5 separate regions of the Homo sapiens genome follow, and all the other regions are linked to region 1. The links come from fine-mapping of genetic effects on gene expression. A gene starts in region 1. Each other region holds a variant in brackets. All regions are shown on one strand. Distances are between the middles of the regions.

The links. PIP is the estimated chance that this variant, and not a neighbour inherited with it, causes the effect.
Region 2: its variant is fine-mapped to the expression of SOAT2 in whole blood (INTERVAL, PIP 0.92).
Region 3: its variant is fine-mapped to the expression of SOAT2 in transverse colon (GTEx, PIP 0.94).
Region 4: its variant is fine-mapped to the expression of SOAT2 in whole blood (TOPMed, PIP above 0.99).
Region 5: its variant is fine-mapped to the expression of SOAT2 in lymphoblastoid cells (TwinsUK, PIP 0.94).

What each region holds. Positions count from the first base shown.
Region 1 is chr12:53,100,792-53,106,867 of GRCh38, reverse strand. It overlaps SOAT2 (sterol O-acyltransferase 2), which reads right to left and starts at 3,382. Exons shown (of 15, transcript NM_003578.4): 1 at 3,209-3,382; 2 at 2,662-2,717; 3 at 1,625-1,761; 4 at 1,248-1,307; 5 at 854-961. The coding sequence starts at 3,290. IGFBP6 (insulin like growth factor binding protein 6) reads right to left here. Exons shown (of 4, transcript NM_002178.3): 2 at 6,011-6,076; 3 at 5,708-5,827; 4 at 4,528-4,823. The coding sequence ends at 4,701. It overlaps LOC124902936 (a long non-coding RNA gene), which reads left to right. Exons shown (of 3, transcript XR_007063315.1): 3 at 1-236. RefSeq lists an enhancer at 3,272-3,800.
Region 2 is chr12:53,615,241-53,621,536 of GRCh38, reverse strand. All of the region lies in intron 1 of ATF7-NPFF (ATF7-NPFF readthrough), which reads left to right. The region is part of intron 1 of ATF7 (activating transcription factor 7); the gene reads left to right. Among named protein-coding and RNA genes, the nearest start is that of ATF7, 8.0 kb to the left of the region's middle. The variant T/A (reference allele first, on the strand shown) is at 3,901.
Region 3 is chr12:52,975,664-52,981,959 of GRCh38, reverse strand. No RefSeq gene overlaps it. Among named protein-coding and RNA genes, the nearest start is that of EIF4B, 28 kb to the left of the region's middle. The variant T/C (reference allele first, on the strand shown) is at 3,652.
Region 4 is chr12:53,383,960-53,390,255 of GRCh38, reverse strand. The region is part of intron 3 of SP1 (Sp1 transcription factor); the gene reads right to left. Among named protein-coding and RNA genes, the nearest start is that of SP1, 6.9 kb to the right of the region's middle. The variant C/T (reference allele first, on the strand shown) is at 3,407.
Region 5 is chr12:52,817,781-52,824,076 of GRCh38, reverse strand. KRT79 (keratin 79) reads left to right here. Exons shown (of 9, transcript NM_175834.3): 6 at 65-190; 7 at 841-1,061; 8 at 1,698-1,732; 9 at 2,000-2,669. The coding sequence ends at 2,205. Among named protein-coding and RNA genes, the nearest start is that of KRT4, 6.8 kb to the right of the region's middle. RefSeq lists an enhancer at 5,357-5,858. The variant C/T (reference allele first, on the strand shown) is at 3,662.

The sequences.
Region 1 (6,076 bases):
TTTAGATTAAGTAAACTTACTGAGGCTCCAGAAGAAGGTCTTCAAGACTCAGACCTTAGTTATAGATTAAAAGAAGTTAATCACTTATGTCTTTAGATGAATGCACACCTACACATAGATGTAGAGCTTAGAAGGTATATATGCTCTGGAAATTGTAATTTTTAGTTGGCCTGGTGATAATTTCCAGGCCTTCTCCCTGTAACTGGTTACAGAAATAAAAACTCACTTCCTCCCCAGTTCATCTGCATCTCGTTATTGGGCCATGAGAAATAGCAGCCCCAACCCTCAGTTTGGTCTGGGAATAGTGGGAGGTATGAAAATACAGACCCCCAGGGGTATACAGCTCTCTGAGGCTCATCCTCACAGTTGGATGGGGTGCTCTGTGGGGGAAATGACCCACCCAGGCACTTGGTTACATGTCTGTCTTCCCCACAAGACTGGGAGTGCCTCACAGACAGGAGTGGGGTCTGCCCCCCTCATTTCTCTGGCCACTAGGACTGGTACTCGGGAGGTGCTCAATGGAGGTTACTTGAATAGAACTGACTTGGAAAGGAGTGTGTATGGGTGTGCATGTGTGCACACACACACACATCTGCCTCAGGGCAAGGTGTCATTGAGAAGCATTTGAGAGTGGCCGGCCCTGGGAGGACAGACAAAGGGCCAACCAAGGCTGGGGAAGGAAGGGATCCTAGAGAGTGTTTCAGGTGGAAAGGTTGTTGGGAGCAATGTTGGTACATGTCCAATAACCAAAGGGGGAACCTGTGTCCTCTTGCCCCAAGGGCAGGTGGGGCACTGAGGACCCAGAGGGTCTGATCAGATAGGTGTGCCTGTCCCAGGTGGGAAGGGGACCTACCTGCCCTCATCAATGAAGTCGATGGCCAGGGTGCTGATGATGAAGACACACAGGCCAGCGATGAACATGTGGTAGATGGTGCGGAAATGCTGCACCTCCATCAGCTCACTAGAGGGACAGGGGCCCGAAAGTCAGTGTGGGAGGGTCCTCAGGGTTGTGTGAACTAGCTCAGACACTGTACACATGAGGCATGGGGCCTAGCGATCCAGAACTTCCAGCTAAAGGCCTTTCTTCCACAACCATGCCTAGGGCAAATAGGGGACCTGCACCTTAGAAACCCTTTCCAAGTCCTCTCCACAAACCACCTAGAGGCTGGGGATGAGAAATGAGGTACCTTGACCCCTAGCCAAAGCCCTTTCTTTTCCTCCCATTACTTGTCATCACCCCGACTTACTCAAGCAGGGACTTGCGGATGATGAAAACTTTCTGTTTCCCCAGGGATGGCTCCTGGGTCCTGAATTGAGATGTTTGTTCAGGGTCAGGAAAAAGTAAATGGGCAGAGGGCAGGGCCATGCAGAAGGTCAATACTTGGGAGCCAAGGGGAGTGGTAGGGAAAGGTCAGGGCTAGGGCCAGAGGGCAGGACCGGGTAGAAGGTCAGGGCCAGGGCAGAGCGAGGCCCAGTAGATGGAGGTCAGTGTTAGGAAGACAAGGGGGGAAGAGGGAAGGCTGGAGTCACGGTCCTGATAAAGCTGGCAAGGGCACATAACGTGATGTTTCTAGCTCATGATCCTTGCTACAGAGGAGCCCGCGCAGCCATTCCCCAGACTCACCTGCTCAAGGAACCTGGGGGAGGTGGGGGCAGAGGTTTGTCTTGTGATGGGTAGGATTGTATAGCCTCCCGCATGGCCCGATCCAGCAGCTCCCTCAGTTGTCCCTGCGCTTGCTCCAGCAATTGTGCCTTCACAGCCTACGGGACAAAGCCAGGGTAGAGCCCACTGTCCCTCCAGTCAGCCATCCTTTCATTCACCAGACATTCACTGAATTTCTGTCTATGCCAGGCACAGTGCTTTTTTTAAAAAAAAAAACAACCTGGGGGGTCAGCAGGGATGGGGGTTCAGTGGTGGCAGGCCTGCGGGGGGAAGGGCAGGCATTGGTGGGGTGGTGATGGGTCTGCTGGTGGGGTAGGACCCCGCAGTGCTAAGTGCTGTGGTAAAAAGATGAACAAGCCATGATCCCTGCCCAGAGTTGATCTCCTTCTGGCTTCCTGGGGCAGCAGCGAGGATCAGGGAGTGACAGCAGGAGCAAGGCTTCCCCTCCCTGGGTCTGAATTCCAGCCTGGTCACCTCCGATTGTCACTCCTCACCCCTGGCCTCCAGCCGCACTAGCAGGAAGACTCTATCTACTGGCTGACTTTTGGTGACCTTTGGGACCTGTGCTTCAAACCCCTCCATCTCCATCCTTAATTCGAATCCGATCTTTGCACTCAGGAACAAGTCATCAGGCTGGGCACCGTGGCTCACACCTGTAATCCCAGCACTTTGGGAGGCCGAGGCGGGTAGATCACTTGAGGTCAGGAGTTCAAGACCAGCCTGGCCAATATGGTGAAACCCCGTCTCTACTAAAAATATAAAAAAAAAATTAGCCACACCTGGTGGCACTCATCTGTAGTTCAGCTACTCGCTTGAACCTGGGAGGCAGAGGTTGCAGTGAGCCGAGATTGTGCCAATGCACTCCAGCCTGAGCAACAGAGCGAGACTTTGTTTCAAAAAAAAAAAAAAAAAAAAGTCATCTTTATCACCAAGCCTCACTCCTGCTTCCTGCTACCAAGGATCTGTCCACTTGACCTCTGACCTCTGACATCCCTCACCTCCATGTGTCGGGTCCATTGTACCAAGTCCGGGGCTCTGTGCGTCTCAGTGTTTCCTGTGAGGAGGGATCAAAGGCACAGTCAACAGGAGGAATTGGGGTTCTGCAGACCCAGAGGCATCCTGTGGTCAGGAAATGCTTTGTGTGCTCAGCAGCTGCCCTCACCCCAACCAGCCAATATCTAGTATCATGGTTGGGGCTACTAGAAGGGGAAGTTGCTGTTGCCAGTGGTGAGGAGGCCATAGGCAAGCAGGGGGCCTGGTGACATTACTGGGAACAGGGCACTCAGGGAATGGGAAGCTACTCCATTCACTATCTGGGGCTAAACAGTCAGAAGGATAAGGCCAGGCCACAGCTCTGACATAGCTCTTTTCTGTTCCATCTTCCAGCTGGGTGGCTCTGGGCTGAGGCCAGGGTCTACCTTCCTTGGCCTCTCTGGACAGCAGGAAGGATTGGCATCAGGCAGTTGGAGCCTTCTCTCCATAGCGCATCTCTCCCCGCCTCCCCCCCACTTGCCTGTGCCTTCTGCACCCCCGAGGGCGGCTCACCATCTCCACAGGGTTGGCGCTCCCGCTCCCCTCCCAGCCCTTCTGTCCTCTGCAGACGCAGACGGGCCCCGCCTGGCTCCATGGTGCGGTCTCCAGCGGGCAGCAGGCAGCCCTTGCCCGTGTTGCCTCCTTCCTTCGCAGTGTGGCCTGCCCTGTAGAGCTCTTGTCCCACTCAGCTCAGGTGACAGCTCCAAAGACTAAAGTCCTTTCAGGAGGAGGGGGCCTCTGGGAGTGCGATAGGTTATCTGATCTGGAGGCAGAGCTTCTCAGATTCAGACCTCACTCTGCTGTCTGTCGCAGGGATCGCCACATCCCCCTAACACCCCAACCACCATCCAGATGCCCAGCTCCAAGGGTGCTATCCACCCCGCCACACACACACAGGAATAGTGGCTGGGTACATCTTGGGGAGGGGAACTTTGCCTCTCAGAAGCTTGTCACCTAGCATGGCTGGCCTTCCAGTCTCTCTCCCAGCAGGCTGAAGGTCAGGGAGGAGTCAGAAATGTCTTCATGTATCAGTGCGTTCAGCTCGCTTTCACCACAAGGTGTGTGATTGACACATGTGGTAATATTCTGATGGGGTTGGCACTGTGCTACTCACGGAACTGGGGCCCCTCCAGGAAAGGCTGAGTGTCAGGGCCCCTGAACTGACAGGGCCGCTTCCTGACACCTGCTTGGGTGAGCATGTAGGCAGAAAGGAGACTAAACAAACACGTATTCAGCACCTAGGGAATACCAGGTATTGTCACATATGGAAGAACCGGATGCAAACCTCCCTCTGTCATTTACCAGCTATATAATTTCAGGCAAGTGACCCCAAATTTTAAGCCAGTTTCCTCCTCTGAAAAATAGGGGTAAAAATCCCTATATCACAAGGTTATCGTAAGCTCAAAATGAGGTTGTCCAGGTAAAATCACATGGTTCAGGGCCATGGGATGAGCTCATATATTAGTAATAATTTCCTTCTTTTTTTAGTAGGAAGTAACAGAAGGGTATGTGCTTTGAGAGTTCCTCTTTGCTGGGTTCCTGCTGGGATTAACTATTAATCCTTCCCCTCCCTTTGTGTCCAAAGATCAGTGTTAGAAACAAGGTCACAACTTCAGATTAAGGCCATGATCTCAGTGTCTCCCCTTCCCACTCCCAACTCCTGGTGGGCAGCTCTGTGAGGCTTGATGGCTTGAAGCTTCTGCCTGGCTGTCACAGGAAGGACTAAAGGTATCCACAGGAAAGGAGAAATGCTGTGAGTGAGCTGTAGTGGGGTAAAGAGAGGGCCAGGGATTCCAGAATTGTGAGAGGCAGACACAGAGACACAAGCCAGCGACCCCAAGCACAGCTTTATTGACACCCCAGCCAACACCAACACTCTTTCCAACCAGCGGTGAGGGGCCCATGGGGCGGGGCCTGAAGGTGGATTGAGGGCCTCGGTTTTTTGTTGAGTGATGACAGCTCCATGTTCCTTCCAGTGGCCCTGCAGCCCCTCTATCCCCCAGCTTTAGCCGCTACTCCCAGTGGGGCAGGAGGAGCTTCCATTGCCATCTGGAGACCCTGGCAGGGACTTGCCCATCCGATCCACACACCAGCAGGGACCTCGGCGCTGCCCCTGGGAGGAGCGGCACTGGAGAGAGAGGCACACAGGTCAGGAGTGAGGCCAGAGGCTTCCAGCAGGAGAATGAGAGGGGACATCTGAGTCTGAGGATGTAAAAACACCTGAGCGTCTCCTCGGGGGTTCCCTCTCTTTTTTTTTTTTTTTTTTTTTTTTTTGAGATGGAGTCTCGCTCTGTCGCCCTGGCTGGAATGCATTGGCATGATCTCTGCTCACTGCAACCTCCACCTCCCAGGTTCAAGCAATTCTCTTGCCTCAGCCTCCTGAGTAGCTGGGATTACAGGTGCATGCCACCACATCTGGCTAATTTTTGTAATTTTTAAAACAGATGGGGTTTCACCAGGTTGTTCAGGCTGATCTTGAACTCCTGACCTCGTGATCCACCAGCCTTGGCCTCCCAAAGTGCTGGGATTACAGGCATGAGACACCGCACCCGGCCCAGTGTTCCCTCTCTTTAGTTCCCCCTCTTCAACCAATAAATTGTGTGCATTCTGCTAGCCTGGAACAGTAGTTTTCAAAGTGACGTTCCCAAATCCGGATCACGAGGGAACATGTTAGAAATGCATATTGTCAGGCCCCACCCCACACCTCCTGAATCAGGAAGGCTGCCGGTGGGGCTCAGCTATCTGTGTGGCATAAGCCCTCCGGAGGATTCTGATGCCTCAAGTTCAAGAGCCACTGAGTTAGGGCATTCCTTAAGTGGGTTTTCTCTCACAGTGTGTGGTTGATTATTCTCTAAGTTTGTTTAATAAATTATATTCTCTATGTTCTCCTAAAGTTGGAAGATCCTTAAAGATGGGGCAGTGTCTTATTTATGCAGCTTTGTAAGCAGCACCGCCCCCACTCCCTGGCAGGAGCCTTCTGCTGGAGCAGGAGGAGAAGAAAAATAGTCTCACCTGCCGCTTCCGGTAGAAGCCTCGATGGTCACAATTGGGCACGTAGAGTGTTTGAGCCCCTCGGTAGACCTCAGTCTGGAGTTGCTGCAGCACTGAGTCCAGATGTCTACGGCATGGGCCCTGGGGAAGGGAGAGTAGGCAGCTTAGAACCGCTCCAGCCCAGCTCCCCATTCCAACCTTCTGGCCCACCAGGCAAGCACCCAGGACAGACAATGGAGACGTCTCCAAGCCCAAGGGAGCAGTCTCAGATGGAAGTCTCCAGGGCTTCCCACCCCTCCTGCTCCCTACCAGCTCCAAACGCACCATCTCAGTGTCTTGGACACCCGCAGAATTGGGCTGGGAGGGCGTGGTAGAGGTGCCTGGATTCCT
Region 2 (6,296 bases), 510 kb before region 1:
GTGCTAGGATTACAGGCGTGAGCCACCGCGCCGGCCATGTAGTTGATTTTTTGACAACTTTACATTTATCCCTGTAATTATCATTTTGTTAATTTGGTTTGTTGTTTTAGCTTGATAATGTCATTTCACCTCTTGACCATTTCTCATATGTTTGTATTATTGATAAATTTGATAAACATGATACCTGTGTTTTTGTTTTAGGTCACTGGTAAACATGTATAAGGGTAGAACAATGCTATACAACATGAGTAGACTATCATTATGTTAACATTAACCTGTTAGTCAACTTTTGGATAAAATTCAGTTGTGAATCCCACCTGCCATTTTATATAATCTAACCTTTATTTTCTATGAAATAGCAAGAGGTATCTTGTTGAAATCCAAATGCAGTATATTCTGCCTCTGACATCTCTGAACTCCTAGGCTAGTGACCCTGTCAAAAAAGAAAATGAAGTTGCATATTAGTTGCTGTTTGGGTATCTTATGCTACTGTTTATAGATCACTGCATAACTTGCCAGTGGTTCATAAGTGATCTGTTTAATAATTCATTTAGAATCTTTCTGAGAAATAATATTTCACTAGTCTACGATTTCTGTACTCGACCTCCCTTGCCCCACATTTTAAAAAATTATAATTTTCCCATTTCCAAGACTTCTAGTCCTGTTTTTTTTTCATTTTCAAATAATTATAGAAAATTAACCATATTTCTTCATAGTTGCAGGGATTTTTTGTTGTTATTTTGTTACTGTCTTTTGGTTGTGGTTTTTTTCTTTTTCTTTTTTTTTTTGAGACGAAGTCTCGCTGTGTTCCCCAGGCTAGAGTGCAGTGGCAGGCTTACTGCAACCTCTGCCGCCCAGGTTCAAGCAATTCTCAGGCCTTAGCTTCCCAAGTAGCTGGGATTACAGGCATGTGCCACCACACCTGGCTAATTTTTGTATTTTTTTTTTTTTTTTTTTTTTTGAGACGGAGTCTCGCTCTGTCGCCCAGGCTGGAGTGCAGTGGCGGGATCTCGGCTCACTGCAAGCTCCGCCTCCCGGGTTCACGCCATTCTCCTGCCTCAGCCTCCCAAGTAGCTGGGACTACAGGCGCCCGCCACTACGCCCGGCTAATTTTTTGTATTTTTAGTAGAGACGGGGTTTCACCGTTTTAGCCAGGATGGTCTCGATCTCCTGACCTCGTGATCCGCCCGCCTCGGCCTCCCAAAGTGCTGGGATTACAGGCGTGAGCCACCGCGCCCGGCCTAATTTTTGTATTTTTTTAGTAGATATGGGTTTTCATCATGTTGGCCAGGCTGGTCTTGAACTCCTGACCTCAAGTGATCCACCTACCTCGGCCTCCCAAAGTGCTAGGATTACAGGCGTGAGCCACCGTGCTCGGCCATGGTTTTTTTTTGAGACAGGGTCTTACTCTGTTGCCCAGACTGGAGTACAGTGGCACAATCATGGCTCATACTGCAGCTTCAGTCTCCCAGGCTCAAGCCATCCTCCTACCTCAGCCTCCTGAGTAGCTGAGACTAAAGGCTCATGCCACCATGCCTGGCTAATTTTGTTTATTTTTTGTAGAGGTCTCATCATGTTTCCCAGGCTGGTCTCGAACTGCTGGGCTCAAACAGTCCTCCTGCCTTAGCCTCCCAAAGTGCTGAGATTACACGCATGAGCTACTGTGCCTGGCCAGATTTTTTGACATTAGATGAAATTCTGTTTCGGAAACTTTTTTTTTTTTCTGAGGCAGGGTCTCCCTCTGTCTCCCAGGCTGGAGTGCAATGGCGCCATCTTGGCTCACTGCAGTCTCTGCCTCCTGGGCTCAAGTGATTATCCTGCCTCCGCCTCCTGAGTAGCTAGGACTACAGATGTGCGCCACCGTGCCCATCTAATTTTTGTATTTTTTGTAGAGACAGAGTTTCCCATGTTGCCTAGGCTGGTCTTGAATTCCTAAGTTCAGGTGATCTGCCTGCTTTGGCCTCCCAAAGTGCTGGAATTACAGGCTGGGCCCCCATGCCCAGCTTGTTTTGGAAACTCTTCTTTTTTTTTTCTTTTTTTTTTTTTTTTTGACACGGAGTCTCGCTCTGTCTCCCAGGATGCAGTGCAGTGGTGTAATCTCAGCTCACTGCAACTTCTGCCTCCTGGGTTCAAGGAGTTCTCCCCCTCAGCCTCCCAAGTAGCTGGGACTGCAGGCACATGCCACCACGCCTGGCTAATTTTTGTATTTTTAGTAGAGACGTGGTTTCACCATGTTGCAGGCTGGTCTCAAACTCCTGGCCTCAGTTGATGCGCCCACCTGGGCCTCCCAAAGTGCTGGGCTTACAGTGTGAGCCACCTGCCCTTGGAAACTCTTTTAGGAAAAAAACTTTATTCCCTGGACATTTCAACTTAGAAATGAAAGAATTAAACTACTCTCTGAAAACAATTTTATGTAGTTTCCCTGTAATGTTGACATCTCCAATTTAGACCTAACTTTTCATTTTCTTCTTTTTTTTTTTTTTTGGAGACAGAGTCTTGCTATGTCAGCCAGGCTGGAGTGCAGTGGTGCAGTCTTGGCTCACTGCAACCTCTGCCTCCCAGGTTCAAGCAATTCTCATGCCTCAGCCTCCCAAGTAGCTGGGACTACAGGTGCCCACCACTGCGCCCGGCTAACTTTTTGTGTTTTAGTAGAGATGGGGTTTCACCATGTTGCTCAGGGTGGTCTCGAACGCCTGAGCTCAGGCAATCCACCTACCTCAGCGTCCCAAAGTGCTGGGATTACAGGCAAGAACCATCGCGTCCGACCCTAACTTTTCATTTTCTGTTTGGAATAAAAACCTATACCAACTATAAACACACACACACACACACAATTGCCATTTATAATTGTAGTTTATTGGCAAGGATGGTCTAAGTTTGCCAGGTCTAAGTGTTGTAGGTGAAGGGTGCTACAAATGAGATACAACTTCAGAAGACATCTCTAGGGACTAAAGACTTTACATTGGCAGGCAGCAACTTTTCCTGCTTGTTAATTTTAGACCTGACAGTTGAATTTATGTTTGAGCAATTTTAGCTGATAAATGCATTTTTTAAGTACCTTCCTCTTTTGGCATTTTAATTTTTACTTTCGTTTTTAAAAAATTGCAAATCGTGAATGAATGTGCATATTAAATTAGCATGCTACTAGGCAGGGAAACAATGCATTTTCTTTTGATACCTTCTCATCCATCTGATAGCATTAGTTATGAATTCTCCTGGAAAGCAGAAGGATGGACTCGATAACCCCTCAAGGTTCTTTTCAGGCCAGAACTTTCATAAATAGAAGTTAAGATCAAGGAACTTACTCTTGAAGAATCAGGAAGAAAAATAGACTGTAAAGAAAATAAAATTGAAATGTTTCTGTCGACCCAGTGGGAATGGATAAACACAAGTAAGGAACATAAATGACGAGAAATAATAACTCCTTTGAGCTAAAAACAAAACAAAAATCAACAACAACAAATATTTTGCATTGGAGTCATTTTATATCTTAAAAATATTTTATCATGACATTTTCTCTTCGACATTTCCCTTGTGGACACTTTGTGTTGAAAGAATGTTGGGTTTTGTTCCTGTTAAATCATAGTATTTTGTTTCCTTCCTTTCTCTTGTTTGTCCTTTTGTTTAAAAACTTTTTTTTTTTTTTTGGTCTTCTGTATAATGGACTGACTGCCTGTTTACAATGAGGCAAGATTCAATTCAATTTTGAAAGTATTTGCTATATCACTTCCTCGGAAATGAAGGATGAGTGTTACAATTCAGGAAAGGTTGTATGAAAAGATAAACTTGTATAAAAAGATAAGCTTTTAAAATTTTGTAGGCAAACATTTAACGAAGGTTCCCAACCAAAGCAAAGGTGAGTTAGTATAGTAGTCTTTTTTTTATTATTATTTAAAAAAA[T/A]TTTTTTTGAGACATAGTCTTGCTCTGTCACCCAGGCTGGAGTGCAGTGGCACAATCTTGGCTCACTGCAGCCTCCGGCTTCTGATTACAAGCAATTCTTCTGCCTCAGCCTCCCGAGTAGCTGGGATTACAGTTGCCTGCCACTATGCTTGGCTAATTTTTGTATTTTTAGTAGAGACGGGGTTTCAACCATGTTGGCCAGGCTGCTCTCGCACCCGTGACCTCAAATGATCCACCCACCTTGACCTCCCCAAGTGCTGGGATTACAGGTGTGAGCCACTGTGCCTGGCCTAGTATAGTAGTTTTAAGAAGGACATAATACATAAGCATTGGTTGGGCACAGTAGTTCACACCTATAATCCTAGCACTTTGGGAGGCTTGGGCCCAGGAGTTCGAGACCAGCCTGGGCAACATGACAAAACCCTGTCTCTATAAAAAATACAAAAATTAGCTGAGTGTGGTGACATGCGTTTGTAGCGCCAGCTACTTGGGAGGCTGAAGCGGGAGGATTGCTTCAGCTCAGGAAGCAGAGTTTGCAGCCAGCCCAGGTTGCAGCACTGCACTCCAGCCTGGGCAACAAAGTGATACCCTGTCTCAAAGAAAGAAATAATACATAAGTTTACAGTAAAACTCATTACAAACCCTTGACTTCAGGTTGTTAGCTTTTTCTCACCTTTTTTTTTTTTTTTTTGGAGACAGAGTCGTTCTCTGTTGCCTAGGCTGGAGTACAGTGGCATGGTCTCGGCTCACTGCAATCTCCGCCTCCCAGGTTCAAGCAGTTCTCCTGCCTCAGCCTCCTGAGTAGCTGGGATTACAGGCACACGCTGCTACACCTGGCTAATTTTTTAGGTATCTTAGTAGAGATGGGGTTTCACTGTGTTGCCCAGGCTGGTCTCGAACTCCTGAGCTCAGGCAATCCACCCGCCTCAGCCTTCCAAAGTGCTGGGATTACAGGAATGAGCCACCGCACCCGGCCACGCCTTTTCTCATCTTTTGGCAATTTTAATCCTCAGTGTTCCCATACATTTGAAACCAGAATGTGCATAAAGTTTCTTTTTTTCTTTTCAATATTGTATCTCTTCTTAATAAATATCATGAAAGTCTATGAAAGTGTAGGTTGGGTGAGTTGGCCCACACATGTAATCCCAACACTTTGGGAGGCTGAGGTGGGCAGATTGCTTGAGCTTGGAGTTCGAGACCAGCCTGAGCAACACAGGGAGACCCCATCTCTACAAAAAATTTTAAAATTAGCTGGGCTTGGTGGTGCACGCCTTTAGTCCTAGCTACTTGGGAGGCCAACGCGGGAGGATTACTTGAGCCTGGGAGGCGGGGGTTTCAGTGAGCTGACATCACGCCACTGCACTCTAGCCTGGGTAACAGAGTGAGACCCTGGCTCAAAAAAACCCAAAAGTAAACTAACGGGAGCCAAGATTTAGCTTAGAAAGTCATTTCATGAGCTTGTGGCATGGACATCTGTGGTCACATGTTTTGCCACAGCCCCACCTTCTCACAAAACCCAGCTTGCTTCCTTTGAGTGGAATTCCTTACTGTTTTCTCCTGATCTGATAGATTGCTTCTTTTTGCTGTAGTAGACGAGGAATGTTTGTGTGCTAAACCGGTCAATTTTTGGGGAGGGCTTAAAATTACCATGCAGTAAGAAAAAAACATTTTGTCAGATTGAAAAATAGGGCACAACCATTCTTTTTGAAATAGGAATATGCCTGACTCATTATTATTATCATTATTTTTAGAGATGGGTCTGGGTTTGTCACCCAGGCTGGAATGCAGTGGCGTGATCATAACTCACTGGCAGCCTTGAACTCCTGAGCTCAAGTGATCCTCCAGTCCTCCTGCCTCAGCCTCCCAAGTAGCTGGGACTACAGACGCACACCCCCTCACTTCCGATCCAGCCAATCTTTAATTATTTTGCAGAGAAAGGATTTTGCTCTCTTGCCCAGGGATCTAAAACTCCTGGGCTCAAGGGATCCTTCTGCCTCAGCTTCCCAAAATGTTGGGATTACTGGTGTGAGCCATCGCATCCAGCCCCTAACTATATTATAAAATCAGGATGATTTGTTGAATGTGACGTAATTACTGTAAATGAATCATGTTGGTACCAAGTTTCTTGCCAGTAATATTTAAGTTTTATCAAACTTGAATAACACCTTGTTGGTTTTATTTAACATCATATTTCTGGTACCAACATGACTCCTGTAGCAGCATTTTCTTTTTTATTTTTCTTTTCTTTTTTTTGAGACAGAGTCTCGCTCTGTCACCCAGGCTGGAGTGCAGTGGCACGAGCTCGGCTCACTGCAAGCTTCGCCTCCCGGGTTCATGCCATTCTTCTGCCTCAGCCTCCCGAGTAGCTGGGACTACAGGCGCCCGCCACCATGCCT
Region 3 (6,296 bases), 130 kb after region 1:
AAATAGTTCATAAACTGCAAAGCATTATATAAATATTAGGTATTATTATAAAGACATAGGTCGGGCGGGGGTGCAGGGGCTCACACCTGTAATCCCAGCACTTTGGGAGGCCGAGGCGGGCGGATCACGAGGTCAGGAGATTGAGACCATCCTGGCTAACACGGTGAAACCCTATCTCTGTCTAAAAATACAAAAAATTAGCTGGGCGTGGTGGCGGGTGCCTGTAGTCCCAGCTACTCGGGAGGCTGAGGCAGGAGAATGGCGTGAACCTGGAAGGCAGAGCTTGCAGTGGGCCGAGATCGTGCCACTGCACTCCAACCTGGGCTACAGAGCAAGATTCCGTCTCAAAAAAAAAAATAAAAAAAAAAATAAAGACATAGGTCGGGCATAGTGGCCCACACCTGTAATCCCAGCACTTTGGGAGGCTGAGGCGGGTGGATCACAAGGTCAGGAGTTTGAGACCAGTCTCAAAAAAAAAAAAAAAAGACATAAACACCAGATCAAAGACTGTGTAAATAGGACTGAGCCAATCTGGAGAAGCATTGTGCAGGAGGCAGCATGAAGGAGGATGAGAGGTGTGTCAGGGCAAGGGCAAATAGGGAAGGACCAGGAAACCCAGGGGGACACATGCCTGACATTCACAGGGCCAGTTCCTCGACTCCTGCACCATGATCACTGCCATTCTGTCTGTGCCGCTAGCATGGCCCTCCAGAATGAACTGCAAGCTTGCTTGAGGCTCTGGAGAGCTCTTACGTCCACTGACGTTGTTTAAGCTCCAAGAGGCTCTGATTCCATGAACTCTGCCAATGAGAAGGTTGAAAAGAAATTGGAAGTCAATGTGGATGGAGCAGCCGCCTATTAGCAAATTTGGCCAAATGGTGGTGCTATAAGCCAGAAAATCAAAGCCATTCTAGTAGCCAGGATGACTGGAACAATGGTCTCTGCACCTAGAAGGCCACCAGGGGGCAGAGGGAGGCAAGACTGCTTTTCTCAGGGACAGCTGGAGTCACCAAGTCAAAAAGGCCATCAGTGCCGGACGTGGTGGCTCACATGTGTAATCTCAGCACTTTGGGAGGCCGAGGCTTGAGGTCAAGAGTTCAAGACCAGCCTGGCCAACTTGGTGAAAGCCTGCCTCTACTAAAAATACAAGAAATTAGTCGGGCATGGTGGTGCGTACCTCGGGAGGCTGAGGCAGGAGAATAGCTTCAATCCAGGAGGTGGAGGTTGCGGTGAGCTGAGATCATGCCATTGCACTCCAGCTTGGGTGACAGATCGAGACTCCATCTCAAAAAAAAAAAAAATGCCATCAGAGTCATTTAATAAAACAAATGGCTATATTGATGCAGTGCCAGAAATAAAACAGAATAACTCAAACAGGTGCAGATCTTGCTATGAAATGCTTAAAGGGATAGGAGTCATTACAAAATGCTTAAAGGGATAGTTCAAGGGAGCTCTGCAGCCTCATCCCTTAACCTGCCCCCCTCACCATACAACTTGTTGCTATAAGTGTCACCCTGTCGCCATGGCTTTTCCTCCCTTCCTCTGTTCCCATACCTTCCCCATACTCATCAAGCTCCTTCTGTATACCAGAGCATTTAGCCAGAGCCTCGGAAGGTGAGGGAGAGATCGCTGATGAGGAGGTGGGAGGGAGCTAAGGGAGGAGTGTGTGTGTGGAGTGAATGGTGTGGCTGGAGGCTGGTCAGCAGGGGAGACTGCAAAAAGAGGAGCTGGAACACAGAGTCAGGGCACTGGCCATGGAGTCTGGATGCTTCCTGGGTCACGGAAGGGTTTTAAGTAGGTGAGGGATATTATGAGATCTAGTTTTATCTATTTATTATTTATTTATATATTTTTTAGAGGTGGTCTTGCTCTGTTGCCCAGGCTGGTCTCAAACTTCTGGGCTCAAGAGATTCTCCCACCTCAGTCTCCCAAGTAGCTGGGACCACTGGGCCTGGCACACATTTATTTTTATTTTTATTTATTTATTTTTTTGAGATGGAGTCTTGCTCTGTCACCCAGGCTGGAGAGTAGTGGCACCATCTTGGTTCACTGCACCCTCTGCCTCTTGGGTTCAAGTGATTCTCCTGCCTCAGCCTCCTGAGTAGCTGGGACTATGGGCACCTGCCACCATGCCCGGCTAATTTTTTTTTTTTTTTTGGTAGAGATGGGGTTTTGCCACATTGGCCAGGCTGGTTTTGAACTCCTGACCTCAGGTGATCCGCCCACTTTGGCTGGGATTACAGGTGTGAGCCACCAAGCCCGGCTGAGATTTATTTTTAAAGAAGACCATGTTGGCTGGTGTGTGGAGGAAGGCTGAGTGGTTACTGGTGGCCATGAGAAGACTTTCTGTTAGGAAGATGTTGCAGTGATAGTACAGAGGACAGATGCCTACAGCCTGGATGTGGGGTGTGGATGGGGAGAAAGGAATAGATTTGGACTTACTGTGGAAGTAGGGTTATTAATTTATTAGATCCATAGGGTAGACCAAGAGAGAAGGAGGTGTCAAATATGATTCCCAGGTTTCTGGCACAAGCAATTAGATGGATGGTGTGTCATTTACTAAGATGAACAAGAATTATGAAGCTGGTGGGAGCTAAGATCAATAATCCAGTTTTGAACAGGTTAAATTTGAGATGCCTAAGAGTCATCTAAAAAGAGGCATTAAGTAGAATATTCCATAGGCTGCTCTGGAGCTCACAAGAAAGGTCTGGTTGGACATCACAATCTGGAAGTCTTTGGTCTATAGAAGATGCAATTAAAACCAGGGCAAGGTATGAGATGACTCAAGAAAATAGTCCCTATTAATAAGAGAATAGGGGCCAGGACCCAGCCCTGAGGAACATCAACTTTATATCAGGTCAATTTATAGATCAGAAACATCAAGTTACAGACCATGTCAAGGAGGGTGAGTGGGGAAAAGGGACCGAGAAACTATAACTAGAGAAAAGCCTGGCACGAGGTGTCTGGGAGACTAGGAAGGAGAGTGTTTCAAGAAGGAGGGAGAGGCTGGGTGCTGTGGCTCATGCCTGTAATCCCAGCACTTTGGGAGGCCGAGGCAGGTGGATCACCTGAGGTCAGGAGTTCGAGACCAGCCTGGCTAACATGGTGAAACCCTGTCTCTACTAAAAATACAAAAAATTAGCCAGGTGTGGTGGCACACGCCTATAATCCCAGCTACTTGGAAGGCTGAGGCAAGAGAATCGCTTGAACCTGGGAGATGGAGGTTGCAGTGAGCCAAGATCATGCCACTGGACTCCAGCTTGGGCAACAAGAGTGAAACTCCATCTCAAAAAAAAAAAAAAAAAAAAAAGAAGGAGGGAGCATGCAGCTGCTGGAAGCTAAGTGGTCAAGGAACAAAAGGAATGTCAAGTGTCCATCGATTTCAACAACATGGAGGTCTCTGGGAACCTTGGCTAGTGCAGCTTCTGAGGAGCCATACGAGCTGAGCCAGCCTGGAGGGGCTGAAGAGTGAACTGGGTGAGGAAGGGGAAAGCCTGTGTGTAGACCTCTTTTGAGAATAATGTAAGGCCAGATGCAGTGACTCAAGCCTGTAACCCCAGCACTTTGGGAAGCCGAGGCAAGTGGATCACCTGAGGTCAGGAGTTTGAGACCAGCCTGACCAACATGATAAAACCCCATCTCCACTAAAAA[T/C]ACAAAATTAGCCAGGTGTGGTGGCGCATGCCTATAATCCCAGCTACTTGGGAGGCAGAGGCAGGAGAATCACTTGAACCCTGGAAGTGGAGGTTGCAGTGAGCCGAGATCGCGCCACTGCACTCCAGCCTGGGCAACAAGAGCAAAACTCTGTCTCAAACAACAACAACAACAACAACAACAACAACAACAAAACAACAACAAAACGAGAGAGAATGATGTAAGATGCTTAGCTATGAGAAGGAACAGAGAGCTGGCCAGGCGCAGTGGCTCACGCCTGTAATCCCAGCACTTTGGAAGGCTGAGGCGGGTGGATCACCTGAGGTCAGGAGTTCGAGACCAGCCTGGCCAATGTGGTGAAACACCATCTCTAGTAAAAATACAAAAATTAGCTGGGTGTGGTGGTGGGCACCTGTAATCCCAGCTACTCGTGAGGCTGAGGTAGGAGAATCACTTGAACCTGGGAGGCAGAGGCTGCAGTGAGCTGAGATCACACCATTGCACTCCTGCCTGGGTGACAGAGTGAGATTCCGTCTCAAAAAAAAAAAAAAAAAAAAAAGAGAGAAGGAACAGAGAGCTGCAAGGGAAGGTGGTCCAGGGAGCTTGTTTTCAGGTGGGCAACCCTGGAATTGTTGAGGGAGAGAAGAGAGAAGAGAGGGGGAGAAATCTCATGTGGGGGGGAGGGGAAAGGGTCAGCGGGTGGTATGAAGAGGGACTGGGTTCCAGACCTCTGCCCATGCTTTTTCCTCTACCTGTGATGCCCTTTCTGACCTCACTGCCTGCTCACCCTACAAGACAAGACTTTGTCTCTACCCACTCACAGCATGTTTAATAGCGGATCCTGGCTCTTACCATATGCTACTGAAGACAGAGACTATGACAGAAGTATAAGTCCCCCAGCACTGTGTCTGACACACATTTGGAGGACAGCCCGGGGCAGGGTGGGAGGTGAACGGTGAAGTGTCAGCACCCTGCCTGGACATTATGGTGGTGGAGTGAGGGCGATGTTTGAGGGGGTGAATGGCAGACTGACTGAGAGAATCTCAGCTGTTCCTCTCAGTGGCTCTTTCTAATACTTTTTAATTTTGTTTGTTTGTTTGTTTGTTTGTTTCCTGCAGGAGTGGAGCCCTGACAGTTCCCAGACCCTCTCACATACTCTCTCAAGGAATCCAGCTTAATGGATCAGCCCACTGTAGACAAAAAAACAGAAAACAGAAAATGGATCCAGAACCCAGACTCCCATCAGTCCCACCACATAGCCAGCAGGAGGTCAGGGGTGAGGGGGGCAGGCTGGGGTTTAGTGGGGGCCTGCATTCCTTTCTCTCTGCACGGCGGCAGGGCTTCTCAAGTATTCTCTAATTAAGATGAGAAGCAGAAGCAGGGGCTCTCTGGAATGTAAACAGCAGATAAGATCAGGCACCCTCCTCCCTGGGAAACTTCCATTTTCCTTCTTTTAGGATGGACACTGCATTCTTTCCCCGCTGCAGTCTTTGGCTCCCCAGTTCTTTCCATCCCCCCTCCCTCAGCCCTTGTCTCTGTCTTTGAGTCTCTGTCTGCATCCCTTATGGCTCCCTCATCTGGTACAGGGCTTGTGCATTGGAACCCAGAGGGGAACCTCTCATTTCATCAGTATATGGACATCTCCCAGGTTCAGGCTGGGAGTTTTTGACCCTTGCTATGGGCTTCTCTCTCCTGTCTCTTCTAGGAGGACAGAGCAGGCTCCATCATTGTACCAAGGCAATGTTCATTCAAATAAACAATGCCAGCCAACATGTGGGGCCAGGCACGCCAAGTACTAAAGGGACCATCTTGATGAGTGGTGCTCATAAGAGGTGTCAGAGGAGGAGACAGCATTGGCAGGCAGCCTGAGGGTGGCAGCCGAGTTACGGGGAAGGCTTCAGGGAGGAGGCGTGATTTGCACTGAGCCTTGAGGAAAACGTGGGATGCAGGACATGGAAGGGTGGGGAGAACTCCTGGCAGGAGGCAGTTTGGGAAACGTTGTTTGAGATTAGTTCAGGTGGAACAGTAGGTTTAGTGAAGGGCAGACGGGGCACTTGAGTAGGGAGGTGGATATGGGAGATGGAATGCAGGGGGAAGATCAGATTTTATGCTTTCAACAATGAGAGGCCATCACAGGTGTTTCAGGGGGGAGTCGTGATAGGGCAACAATGTGGATTTAAAGATAATTCTGGAAGCAAATTAGAGAGGTGCGGGGTGGAGAGGTGAAGGTCTCATGCTCTCTTATCCCCTGACTCCTCACCTTCAGCTGCTGCCACTGTCTCAAGGGGCCCAGAAGTACCTTGATGAAGATGCAGGATGGGTGGGATTGGGGAGCCATGAGACCCTCCCTCTCCTGGGATTCTTGACGCCCTGTGTCTATGCTTGGCCAGGGCTCTGTCCACAGTGGGGCTTGGACCTGAGTCCCTCCCTACCTCCCAGGTAGCACAGGACAGGATGAACCTTTCTGGGCCAGAGGGCCTGGCGCAGTCCAGGGAAGGATTCCGTACACTGCATGCCATGTGGCTTCTCCATGCTGGCACCTCAGCCCAACCCGGGACAGTGGGTGTGGGGAATGGAGAAGCGGGTGGGCCATAATTTGAGAGCAAGGGGGCTGGTCTGAAGCTTATGGGCCCATGGGGACATCC
Region 4 (6,296 bases), 280 kb before region 1:
CAAGTATAATACTAGGGAAAGACAAAAGACGCAGAAACATTCAACATTATATTTGATAAAATATAATCTTAAAATAGAAAATTCTTTCATATGACCTTTTGCACAAAAATGATAACTGGTAAGACATTTAAATCATCTAAACCTACTTTTCATTAATGTCCAAATGTACTGCTCTAAAACACAACTTTTTAACAAATTAGCTCTCAGCAATCTGACTCCAAGTTTAGTGACACCCTTGGCAAACCAACCCTGGTATCACATTCAACTTAACTTCTAAGAGAAGACATTTTCCTGACCCCAATAAAACCCAGCAGATGTGAAATTGTTATTTTTAGTACCTGAAATTTGGTTTGTGAATGAATTATACCCATCAAGGAAATATGTTCTATTCTCCTGCCAAAGCCCAGCCCTGCACTCTTTATTAGACAGAACTCACAAGAAGTCATCCAAACTTAAATCTTTAAAAGCCAACTCCCCGTCAACCTGCGGCAAGAGTTTCAGGATTCAGCAGCGGCTAAGAAAAACATCTGAGGCTTTAAATGAAAAGTAAAATAAAATAAAATAAAGATCTGGGAAAATATGACTACAAAATGAAAGGAAAAGCTGTTGATAAAAGAGGGAGGGGTGTCAATTTAAAAAAAAAGAAACATCACGCCTGTAATCCCAGCATTTTGGGAGGCCAGGAGATCGAGACCATCCTGGCCAACATGGTGAAACCCAGTCTCTACTAAAAATGCAAAAATTAGCGGCTGGGCACAGTGGCTCATGCCTATAATCCCAGCACTTTGGGAGGCCGAGGCAGGCAGATCACCTGAGGTCAGGAGTTCAAGACCAGCCTGGCCAACATGGTGAAACTCAATCTCGATTAAAAATACAAAAATTAGCCAGGCGTGGTGGTGGGCATTACTCGGGAGGCTGAGGCAGGAGAATTGCTTGAACCCAGGAGGCAAAGGTTGCAGTGAGCCGAGACCACACCATTGGACTCCACCCTGGGCAACAAGAATGAAACTCCGTCTCCCAAAAAAAAAAAAAAAAAAAAGATCATTTTAAAAAATAATGAATGTAAACAGACTAAGTGAACACCATGGAAGCTGCAATCTTCCACAATCATGTAATATATCTCATTTTGTACAGTGATATATACATGTATCATACAACATTTCACATCCAATGTTCTTTCTACATCGTACCAAGAAGTTGAACATACTGCAAAAAGGTTAAATTTTACAGTAAAATAACTATCAGAGAAGGGGGTAAAATTAGATACTTTTTTTTTTTGACAGGGACTCACCCTACTGCCCAGGCTGGAGTGCTGTGGCGTGATCATGGCTCACTGCGTCCTCAACCTCCCGGGCTCAGGCAATCCTCCCACCTCAGCCTCCCAAGTAGCTGGGACTATAGGCGTGTGCTACCATGCTCAGGTAATTTTCATATTTTTTGTAGAGATGGGGGATCCCTATGTTGCCCAGGCTGGTCTTGAACTCCTGAGCTCAAGAGATCTGCCTGCCTTGGCCTCCCAAAGTGCTGGGATTACAGGCATGAGCCACTACGCCTGGCCAAAACAAGATACTTTTGCCAGCAGGAAGGCAAAAGCTGAAAAAGGAGTAAGCCTCTAGGAAGTGATTTTATTATCTTTCTTTAAGGATGAAGTCATATCAATTAAAGGGGAAATACTACACAATTATTACTAGCCAGAAAGGAGAAAACTTGGATCTTCAAAAACCCCTATTAATGAAGCAAACAATCTCAACTCTTACAAAACAGCCTGTCAATGCCTCATTATCTCCTTAGTGAATGTCAAGCTCCTCTTACCTTACAGAAACACACACGCATTTTCTTCAGCTCAAACACCATCAGTAACAACTAGGTAGCCCTAGTCTATGACATATTAAATGGCAGACTTCCCCAGAGCATGATTTAGCAATGAGAATGCCTCATAACTGTTCTCTAAACCCTAAGTTATAAGCCTTTTAGAAATTGCAAGGATCCAAATTATTAACAGGAATAATCCCACAGTTTGCTCTGAAGAAGAGCAAAACCGGGCACTTCAATCTAAGAGCAAATAGAAAATAAACATGATGGTGTAGGTTGCCCAGAAGTGTCTAATTTTCTACGTTGTAGAGGTCAGTTTTTATAAAACTTTTCCCATTTCTATTCCCATAAATGTTTAGTTTATAAAACATTTTTATAAATGTTTTATAAACATCTGTCAGTTTTAGAGCATTAAATCTTAAATCAAAAACACCTTTTCGAATACATTTTTTTTTTTTGAGACGGAGTCTCGCTCTGTCACCCAGGCTGGAGTGCAGTGGCACAATCTCAGCTCACTGCACGCTCTGCCTCCCAGGTTCACATCATTCTCCTGCCTCAGCCTCCCTAGTAGCTGAGATTACAGGCACCCACCACCACGCCCAGCTAATTTTTTTGTATTTTTAGTAGAGATGCGGTTTCACCATGTTAGCCAGGATGGTCTTGATCTCCTGACCTCATGATCCGCCTGTCTCAGTCTCCCAAAGTGCTGGGATTACAGGCGTGAGCCACCAGGCTGGCTCGAATACATTTTTAACAATCTAAAGAATTGTTCAAGTCCCTAGTTAAAACAGGTTGCACCCTAGACTAGTAAAACTAGCCTCAGCTCTGGCTGTTGTCTCATTAAGTGATTCTCTGTACCTCAATTTCCTCATCTAGAAAATAAGGCAGTTGTACTAAATAACTTCAGTCCCTTCCAGCTCTAACTTTCAATTCTAAGATTTCAATTAACTAAGAAAATTACTGTCTTGTTAAAGCTCAACATGTAGTATTTCTAAACACACCACAGGAATGTAAGAAATCAGGGAACTTAAGCAGACTTTCCCCCTAGATTTACCAAAACTGCAGGAGGCAGGAAATATGGTTGCCTATTTGCTACCCTCACTTATGTAAGAATCAGTTAAATGGAATGAGAACTTGGTAACAAAAGTAAACAATTTATAAACCCACATATATATGCCAAAAGAACTAGAAGTGGCCAGGCGCAGTGGCTCACGCCTGTAATCCCAGCACTTTGGGAGGCCAAGGCGGGCGGATCACGAGGTCAGGAGTTCGAGACCAGCCTGACCAGCACAGTGAAATCCAATCGCTACTAAAAAAATACAAAAAATTAATGGGCATGGTGGGACGTGCCTGTAATCCCAGCTACTCGGGAGGCTGAGGCAGAAGAATTGCTTGAACCCGGAAGGCAGAGGTTGCAGTGAGCCAAGATCGCACCACTGCACTCCAGCCTGGGAGACAAGCTAGAGTCAGTCCCAAAAAAGAAAACGAAAAAAAAAAAAAAAACAAACCTAGAAGTTGGGTGATATTATTTGGTGATATTAAACTATTTTCCGTATTTGTATAATTGTGCCAGCATATAAAGATGTATGTGTAT[C/T]CTTTTATTGTGCTTTATTAAAGATTAGCTCCATACAATGGAATTTAAAATGATAAAGTCAGGCCGGGCATAGTGGCTCACACCTGTAATCCCAGCAGTTTGGGAGGCCAAGGCAGGCAGATCACTTGAGGTCAGGAGTTCGAGACCAGCCTGGTCAACACAGTGAAACCCCGTCTCCATTAAACAAACAATTAGGCGGGCATGGTGGCACACGCCTGTAATCCCAGCTACCTGGGAGGCTGAGGCAGGAGAATCACTGGAACTCAGGAAGGGGAGGTTGCAGTGAGCGGAGATTGCACCACTCCACTCACTACAGCCTGGGCAACAGAGCAAGACTCAGTCTCAAAAATGAAAAAAAAAAAAAAAAAAAGATACAGTCTACATAGACTTACATCTGTTTACTGTTTTAAATTTCAAATTAATAGTGAAACATTTAGTTCAAAATGAAAGACCCTGAACATTATGGTCAACAGATTCAATATTCTTCCCAGACTGTTTTTCCCTTCAATGCTCTCCTCATTCCTAACTCTTCTCAATCCTACATCCCCCACTCCATTCCAGACCCCAACTTACCCCACTCCCTTTCCTTCTCCCTTCCTAACCACACACAGTACTTTCAAAGCAGTCTAGGAAGTTAGACTGCTACCTAGAAGTATCAGAATCACCTAGGATGCTCATATGTTAGTGTGAAGGGAAGCTATGGGATTTTGTTTTTCAGATAACTAGGAGTTAAAAAAAAATTCAATCCTGATTAACCAGCACACTCAGAGTGTGGGATATTCTGGTTAATACTAACCAGGGAACTTACTTCGTTGAAAAGCAACCCGTTAGATCATTTTCCCTTCAATTAGGAGTTACAGTTCACAAGAAATATCTGATGATTTAATCTGTGTTCTACAAACAGGTAAAATTCATAATCAATTTTTTTTTTTTTTTTGAGACGGAGTCTCACTCTGTCACCCAGGCTGGAGTGCAGTGGCACGATCTTGGCTCGCTCCAAGCTCTGCCTCCCAGGTTCAAGCGATTCTCCTGCCTCAGCCTCCCAAGTAGCTGGGACTACAGGCTTGTACCACCACGCCCGGCTAATTTTTGTATTTTTAGTAGAGACGGGGTTTCACCATATTGGTCAGGCTGGTCTTGAACTCCTGACCTCATGATCTGTTCACCTCGGCCTCCCAAAGTGCTGGGATTATAGGCGTGAGCCACCGCGCCCAGCCCATAATCAAATTTATTTTTATTTATTTTTTTTTTTTTTGAGACGGAGTCTCGCTCTGTCACCCAGGCTGGAGTGCAGTGGCGCGATCTCGGCTCATTGCAACCTCCGCCTCCCTGGTTCAAGTGATTCTCCTGCCTCAGGCTCCTGAGTCGCTGGGACTACAGGTGCGCGCCACCATGCCCAGCTAATTTTTTGTATTTTTAGTAGAGACAGGGTTTCACAGTGTTAGCCAGGATGGTCTCGATCTCTTGACCTTGTGATCCACCCGCCTCGGCCTCCCAAAGTGCTGGAATTACAGGCGTGAGCCACCGCGCCCGGCCGCCTTTTATTTTTATTTTTTGAGACAGGGTCTTGCTCTGTCAACCAGGCTGGAGTGCAGTGATGTGATCTCGGCTCACTGCAGCCTCTGCCTCCCAGGTTCAAGCAATTCTTGGCCTCAGCCTCCTGAGTAGCTGGGACTACAGGCGCGCATCACCATGCCTGGCTAATTTTTTTATTTTTAGTAGAGAAGGGGTTTCGCCATGCTGGCCACGCTGGTCTTGAACTCCTGACCTCAGGTGACCCACCCACCTCAGCCTCCCAAAGTGCTGGGATTACAGGCGTGAGCCACCGTGCCCAGCCACCCGACTAATTTTTGTATTTTTTTTTTTTTTCAGAGTCTCACTCTGTTGCCCAGGCTGGAGTGCAGTGGTGCAATCTTGGCTCACTGCAACCTCTGCCTCCCAGATTCAAGCAATTCTCATGCCTTAGCCTCCCGAGTAGCTGGGCCCATAGGCATGTACCACCACACCCGGCCAATTTTTGTATTTTTGTCGAAGACAGGGTTTCGCCATGTTGCCCCAGCCGGTCTTGAACTCCTGAACTCAACCCATCCACCTGCCTCGTCTTCTCAGTGCCTGCATTACAGGCGTGAGCCACCACACCCGGCCCATAATCAATTTTTATCCTATGGAGGAGTTGGCCTACAGGCCAAAGAAGGCCTTAGAGCTAAGAATGGTTTTACATTTTTAAAGGGGTGTGGAAAAAAAACATACAAAACAGAAAATGTGGCTGGGTGCAGTGGCTCACACCTATAATCCCAGCACTTTGGGAGGCCGAGGCAGGTGGATTCACATGAGGTCAGGAGTTCGAGACCAGCCTGGCCAACATAGCAAAACCTTGTCTCTACTAAAAATACAAAGATTAGCTGGGCGTGGTGGTGCTCGCCTGCAATCCCAGCTACTCAAGAAGCCCAGGCAAGAGAATCGCTTGAACCCGGGAGGCAGAGGTTGCAGTGAGCCGAGATCACGCCACTGCACTCCAGCCTGGGTAACAGAGTAAGACTCCATCTCAAAAAAAAAAGAAAAAAGAAAAAAAAGAAAAGAAAGCCGGGCGCGGTGGCTCACGCCTGTAATCCCAGCACTTTGGGAGGCCGAGGCGGGCGGATCACGAGGTCAGGAGATCGAGACCATCCTAGCTCACATGGTGAAACCCCGTCTCTACTAAAAATACAAAAAATTACCCGGGCGTGGTGGCAGGCACCTGTAGTCCCAGCCACTCGGGAGGCTGAGGCAGGAGAATGGCGTGAACCTGGGAGGCGGAGCTTGCAGTGAGCCGAGATCGCGCCACTGCACTCCAGCCTGGATGACAGAGCAAGACTCTGTCTCAAAAAAAAAAAAAAGAAAAGAAAATGTG
Region 5 (6,296 bases), 280 kb after region 1:
GCCTCCAGCTGTGAGGGTGGGCTGGGGCCATTTGAAAGCGCACTGCCACTTCTTTGGTCCCCAGTATGAGGAGCTGCAGGTGACTGCTGGGAAGCATGGGGACAACCTGCGGGACACCAAGAACGAGATTGCTGAGCTCACCCGCACTATCCAGAGGCTGCAGGGGGAGGCTGATGCAGCCAAGAAGCAGGTGGGACTCTACTGGGGGCTTGGGGGTCTGGCCTAGGTGTTGGCAGGGCCTTCTCATTGTCACCCCGAGGGGCTAGGCCTGCTCTTCTCCTGACGGACACAATAGAATGCTAGGCCATTGATCACAGGCTCCTTTTACATGGGGGGAAACTGAGGCACAGAGCAGGAAGGAGCTTGTCCAACGTCACATGGTATATGAGTGGTAGAGCAGGTGGGACAACCTTCTCCAAGGAAACTGATCCATCCCATCTCCAGGAAGTCAGAACAGGAGGTAGAGGGTTCAAGGGGCCAGGTCACAGATGCTGATGCCGACTCCACCTTTAGAACGGCTAAAAAGTGTGGGTTCTTTCACAGATTAGAATGAAGCACCTGGTTACTAATAAGGCTGTGTTATTTATTTCATCTCTTCTGAGGCATTGGGCTGATCTGCAGCAGGAGGGGTTGAGGTTAGACTTCAGTAAGGACTTTCCCAGTGGCCTTACTTGATCCTGCTTGTGTAATAGCATCTCTTCAGATGAATATTTCTCTTCTCTCTTTCCCAGCTGGTTGGGGGCAGGGATGTGGGAATGATGATGTCTCCATGGCTTGAGGGCAGAGAGATGAATGGGATGACCCCGGAGGGTGCTTCCAACACCTTTCTCCCCTGGGCAGTGTCAGCAGCTGCAGACGGCCATTGCGGAAGCGGAGCAGCGTGGGGAGCTGGCACTCAAGGATGCTCAGAAGAAGCTTGGGGATCTGGATGTGGCCCTGCACCAGGCCAAGGAGGACCTGACACGGCTGCTGCGTGACTACCAGGAGCTGATGAATGTCAAGCTGGCCCTGGACGTGGAGATTGCCACCTACCGCAAGCTTCTGGAGAGCGAGGAGAGCAGGTGGTGGCCCCTCCTGCCCGACCCAGAAAGCTGGGTCGGGCCTGCCCTGGGGGAGAGCCCAGGGAGTCTGCTCCGGGGTCAAGAGAGGGAGAGAGGAACCAGGGAGCAAGATCCTGACTCACGCGGGGGGAAAATCTGCTTGTGCCCACTGCCTCCATCACTCCTCTCCTTGGTTGGCACAACTCTTGTTAATCTTTACTGTGGCTGACAGCCCGGTAGGAATGGAACTTCCTCTTCCACCAGCAGATTTCACCAGCAGTGGAAGCTTTGGAAAAAAAAATCCACCATCTCTGTCCTTAGGAAAAGCATGAAATAGAAAGTGGGCAGAAACTAGGCAGCTCTGTCTGGTCGTGGGCTTGTTTCCATTGGGGCAGGGATGCTGTCCGTAGCCCACATGGGCAGAGAGGAAAGAAAAGGGGAGGATGGGAGTTGGCACAGCCTACTGGTGGCTCTGCCCTTTCTGCAGCACTGGCTTTTGGACCTGGGCACAGCCCTATACACATACTTCTCATGTTTCCTGGTCTTGTCATCAGGATTCACTGAGTGGATCCAATGTAAAGGCAGAGGGAAGGAGAGGGTTTTCATGTGGGCACCAGGGATAACTGACTGCTCTCCTGGCCTTTCTGTGTCCCCTAGGATGTCTGGAGAATGTCCCAGTGCAGTCAGCATTTGTGAGTATTTACTCCCCACTTCCTGCTCCACCCCTGGCCAGGCCCCAGAACTCTGCTCAGTTTATGCAACCTGTACCTGTCCTAAAGCATGCTCTCCTCCATTCGAGCCCCTGGAGACAGGTTCAGAGGGTCCTAGTTCTGGGCTTCTCTATCCATTTCCCATAGCTCTGCTGCTTGATTTTGTTCTGATTCCCCACTGATTTCTGGGTCTCCCCCAGCCCTCTCTGGCATGGCCGCCCTGACTAATCCAGACCCTTTGCTTTGCAGCTGTGACTGGCAACTCCACCACTGTGTGCGGAGGTGGCGCAGCCAGCTTTGGAGGTGGCATCTCCCTGGGTGGGAGTGGGGGGGCCACCAAGGGTGGATTCAGCACAAATGTGGGCTATAGCACCGTCAAGGGAGGGCCAGTCTCTGCGGGCACCTCCATCCTGCGGAAGACCACTACGGTCAAGACGTCCAGCCAGAGGTATTAGCTGCTGAGCCCTGCAAGGGCCCCTGCAATCCTGTCCCTGCCCTCCTCACCCCACCTCTGCTGTCCTTTCCAGTCACTTCTCAGGAGCAGGAACAGCCAGGGGACCTCAGACCCAGGGTATTTTCATACCAGACTATTTGCATCTTGGGAAGCGCTCAAATCTACTCAGGTTTTCTCCTTGGTCCTGCAGTAGGATGGGAGGGAAGGTTAAAGTTGCCAGCTTGAGTGATGTGCTTGGGTGACTTGGGGGTGACCTTTTGACCACCGAGAGGAGGCTGAATTTCTCAAGCCATTAGGAGAGAGAGAAATTGGGAGTGGTCCCCAAAGACCCTTCAACCTCCCCAGTCCCCCACCAGACCCACCCTCTCCCTGAATCTACCCACATCCCCCTTCCCTGTCTGTGTCTCAATAAATGGTGCAACTGCAGCTAGCTGTCTGTGGCTGCAGTCTGTCCTGCCTGGGGAACTGAAATTGTGTCCATTGATTAACATCCTGATGCCTGACACAGCAATAATCACACACTCACCACATCCCAATCGCCATGCTTACTTAGGTACATTAGTTTGATACCATCGCCACTCCAGGGCTGTACATGGCTCACAAGAGGAGACCAAGGCTCAGAGGGAATATGTAAGCTGCTCAAGGCCAGACCTGGCTAAGTGGCTGCCTATTAACCAGCCACCCCTGGTGCCTGTTCAGCCTCCCACTAACTCTGTAGGGGCAGACAGCATGCTTTGTTCAGTGGAGAGGTCTTAGGCTTCAGAACTAGGCAACTTGGGTTTAAATCCAAGTTCTGCCACTTACTAGCTGTATGACCTCGGTCAAGTTACCTAACCTCTCTGAGCCTTAGTTTCCTCCTTTGTAAAAGTGGGTTGTGATAAGAACATGTGTAAAGCATCTGGCTTATAGAGGCCCTTTCAGGAATCAGGTTTCTTTGCTTTCCCACTCCCTGACTTCTGGATTCCCAGCTTATCCTCTTGGCCTCAGTGATGTCTCTCTCAGCCCCCACATCCAGTCGGCAAGAAAAATCCACACTTAATTGGGTTTTGTGGTTTACACATACATTACTTTGCCTGTGACCATCACCACAGCCCTAGGTTCAGTAGTGGGCATGTGGTGTTCCAGTTTACAGGTGAGGCGATTCACGCTCACAGAAGTGACCTCTCATGCTGTAGTCATCCAGCTGGCTGGAGGTGGGTCAGTAGTGTCCAGGGCTGCAATTTCAAGCCCTCTGTCCTGTCACCCCAGAAGCTACCTCCGTCCTACTCCTGCCTCCATCACTCGCCAAATCTTACTGCTCCTCCCTCCATGCGTCTCTTGGTATCACCTTCTTTCCTCTTCATCTCCACAGTTCTCTACTTTGAGTCTGGACCCCACTCCTCAAGCTGTACCCAAGTGATTCCCCAATTGGCTGGCCTCTCAACCCTGCACCTCTCAGGCCCTCCCCACCCTGCTAC[C/T]AAACCAGTTGGCCCGACCCGAGGCTGTCACCACTCCGCTCCCTTCCTTGGCAACCTTAGGGCTCCTGGCAGTTGCTGGGATGCATCCCACACTCTTCCGGCCTGATCACTCTGTCCTCCTCAGAGGAGCCCCGAAGAGCCCTGAGAAAGCTTCCTCCAGGGCTGTGGAAGGCCAGCAGAGGGATTTTCAGCCAAACCCTAACCTCCAGCTTAGGAACACAAAGGCCTAGCGGTTTAGGGTCAGCTCTGCCTCACCAGCTTGGGTGGTCTCTAGCTTCCCTTCTCAGACAGATGGAGTATAGTCCACCCCATGTACAACACTTTGAGGAATACTTGCTAATGCTCACTGAGTGCCAACTGTGTGCCAGAACTGCTGTCAAGCCTTTAACTGATTCTCTTCACAACAGCCTATAATATAAATACTATTATCATTCTAATTTTGCCTATAAGGAAAATAAGGCACAGAGTGGTTAAGTAACTTGCCTAAGGTCACACAGCTAGGAAGTAGCAGAGCTAGGTGTGGAATCCAAGCAATCTGGTTCCATAGCCCAAGCTCTTAAGCACCAGGTTATTTTGCTTATATAGAAAAAGGAATGGAGACCTGGGGATGCTGGAGCTAGAAGGGGCATTGGATGTAATCGACTCCAAACTTTTTATTTCATAGATAAGAAAACAGGTTGAGGAAGGGGAAGAATGTATCCAAAGCCACGGTAACTTAGTGGCAGTGTTAAAAAAAAAATCAGTTTTAGTGAGATCATAGGCCAGGTGTTGTGGCTCCTGCCTGTAATTCCAGCACTTTGGGAGGCTGAGGCAGGTGGATCACTTGAGCCCAGGAGTTCAAGACAAGCCTGGCAACATGGTGAGACTCTGCCTCTACAAAAAAATACAAAAATTAGCTGGGTTTGATAATGCATACCTGTAGTCCCAGCTACTTGGGAGGCTGAGGTGGGAGGATCACTTGAGGCTGTTGAGGCTGCGGTGAGCTGTGATTGCACCATTGCACTCCAGCCTGGGTGACAGAGGGAGACCCTGTCTCAAAAAAATTATATTTAGGGCTCAAAAACTGAACAATAGAAACTTTTGATTGTCATGGAAAAAAGCCTCAGAGATTATACTGCAGCCCAGGGGGGCCCACCAACAATAATGCGCTGCTTAGACATACTTGTCGAAGGAGGGGAATGGCCCAGACCCAGGGGTTTCCAAACTGAGGACCCTAAGGGCTGCTTTCAGGGGTGCAGGGGGAGGTCAGCAGGTGAGAAGGATCATGGTCCCTCCTCTGCACCAACTGGATCATCTCTCCTTATCTGTTTTACTCATGAGGCTGTGCACGTGATTTTGTTTATGAGGGTGCTTTTGCTGCCAGAACATGCTGGGAAGCCCCTGCCTGTATATGCCTGGGGTAGGAGGCCAGCAGGGGCAGCTCTCCGGCCCGGGGAAAGAGGAGCCCCTGGGTACAGACCCCCATACCTGGCTCTCAGGAGTGCCCGTCCTCTCATTGCCCTCACTGGCCTCTCCCTAAAACGCTGATGGCCCTTTTCTGCAGAATCTCTGATCCCCGTGTTGTCTCTGGTTCCCCAAGAATGACTCAGGCCCGGTGGGGCAGTTGAGGTTGGGTGACCGAATGGAGTGAGGGTGCCCGCCTGGCCAGGGAGGGCAGGAGCACTTTCCCACACCACACAGTGGGTTTGGAGATGAGAGTGACAGAAGCCCTCAGGATCCCTTAATCCCAGGGCTGAATGTAAGGGCTTGCCTCCCTTACCCAGAAAGCCCTGAGCAAACACTCCCTCCGCCTGGCTCCACACCCCTGTCGGCTGCTCATCCCTCTGTGAAAAGATTGGGAACAGCTGCCAAACAAGGAAGGGTCACCGAGGGCAGTAGCAGAATCTGCGTGTGGAGGTCTGGGGAGGGGCAGGGGACAAGCTTCCAGCTGTGGCTGCTGGGTAGTGGCGCCTTGTTCAGCCACCTGCCTCTGGCCCACATATGAAGGCAATGTCTTTCCCCGTTTTCAGGGAAAGAAACTCATCTCTCTTTCTCTCTCACTCTAGGGTGTAAAGGCGCTCTTGCATAGGAAGTTCTTCCTTAGGTCTACCTTCGGTTTCTCAGGCTCAGTTTGAAGATTTTGTGAGCTTCTTGCAATTCTGATTTAATAATAAGGACACAGAATGTGGCTCTAGACTAGAACTTTCTTCTTGTTTGGATTGGGTTTATGGTAGGGTTTGTCATGAAATTAATTTGGATTTAGTTAATTGGAGGATACAAAACTGGCCCCTCAGGACAGTGTCATACCTTATTGGGTACTTGTAAGGACAGGGCCACATCAACCAAGCAACTGACCATGTGCTGAGGGTAAGGACAAAAAGGAGCGGAGCTGCATCTGCAGAGCTTGCAGCCTGCTGGCCAGACCCCATGGCTGTCTTGGTGGACCATGAGGTACAGGGCTGTATAAGTTGCTGTGTATTTTTTTCCCTGCATATTCTGTGTGGGCCAGTCACTCATATAAAACATTATACCTACCGTTTTATACATTGTAAGGTCACAAGCTTTGAAGTCAGACAGATAGTACTGACTTCCTATCTCTACCACTTCCTGGCTGTGTGATCTCAGGCAAGTTACATACCCCTCTGAGCCTCAATAT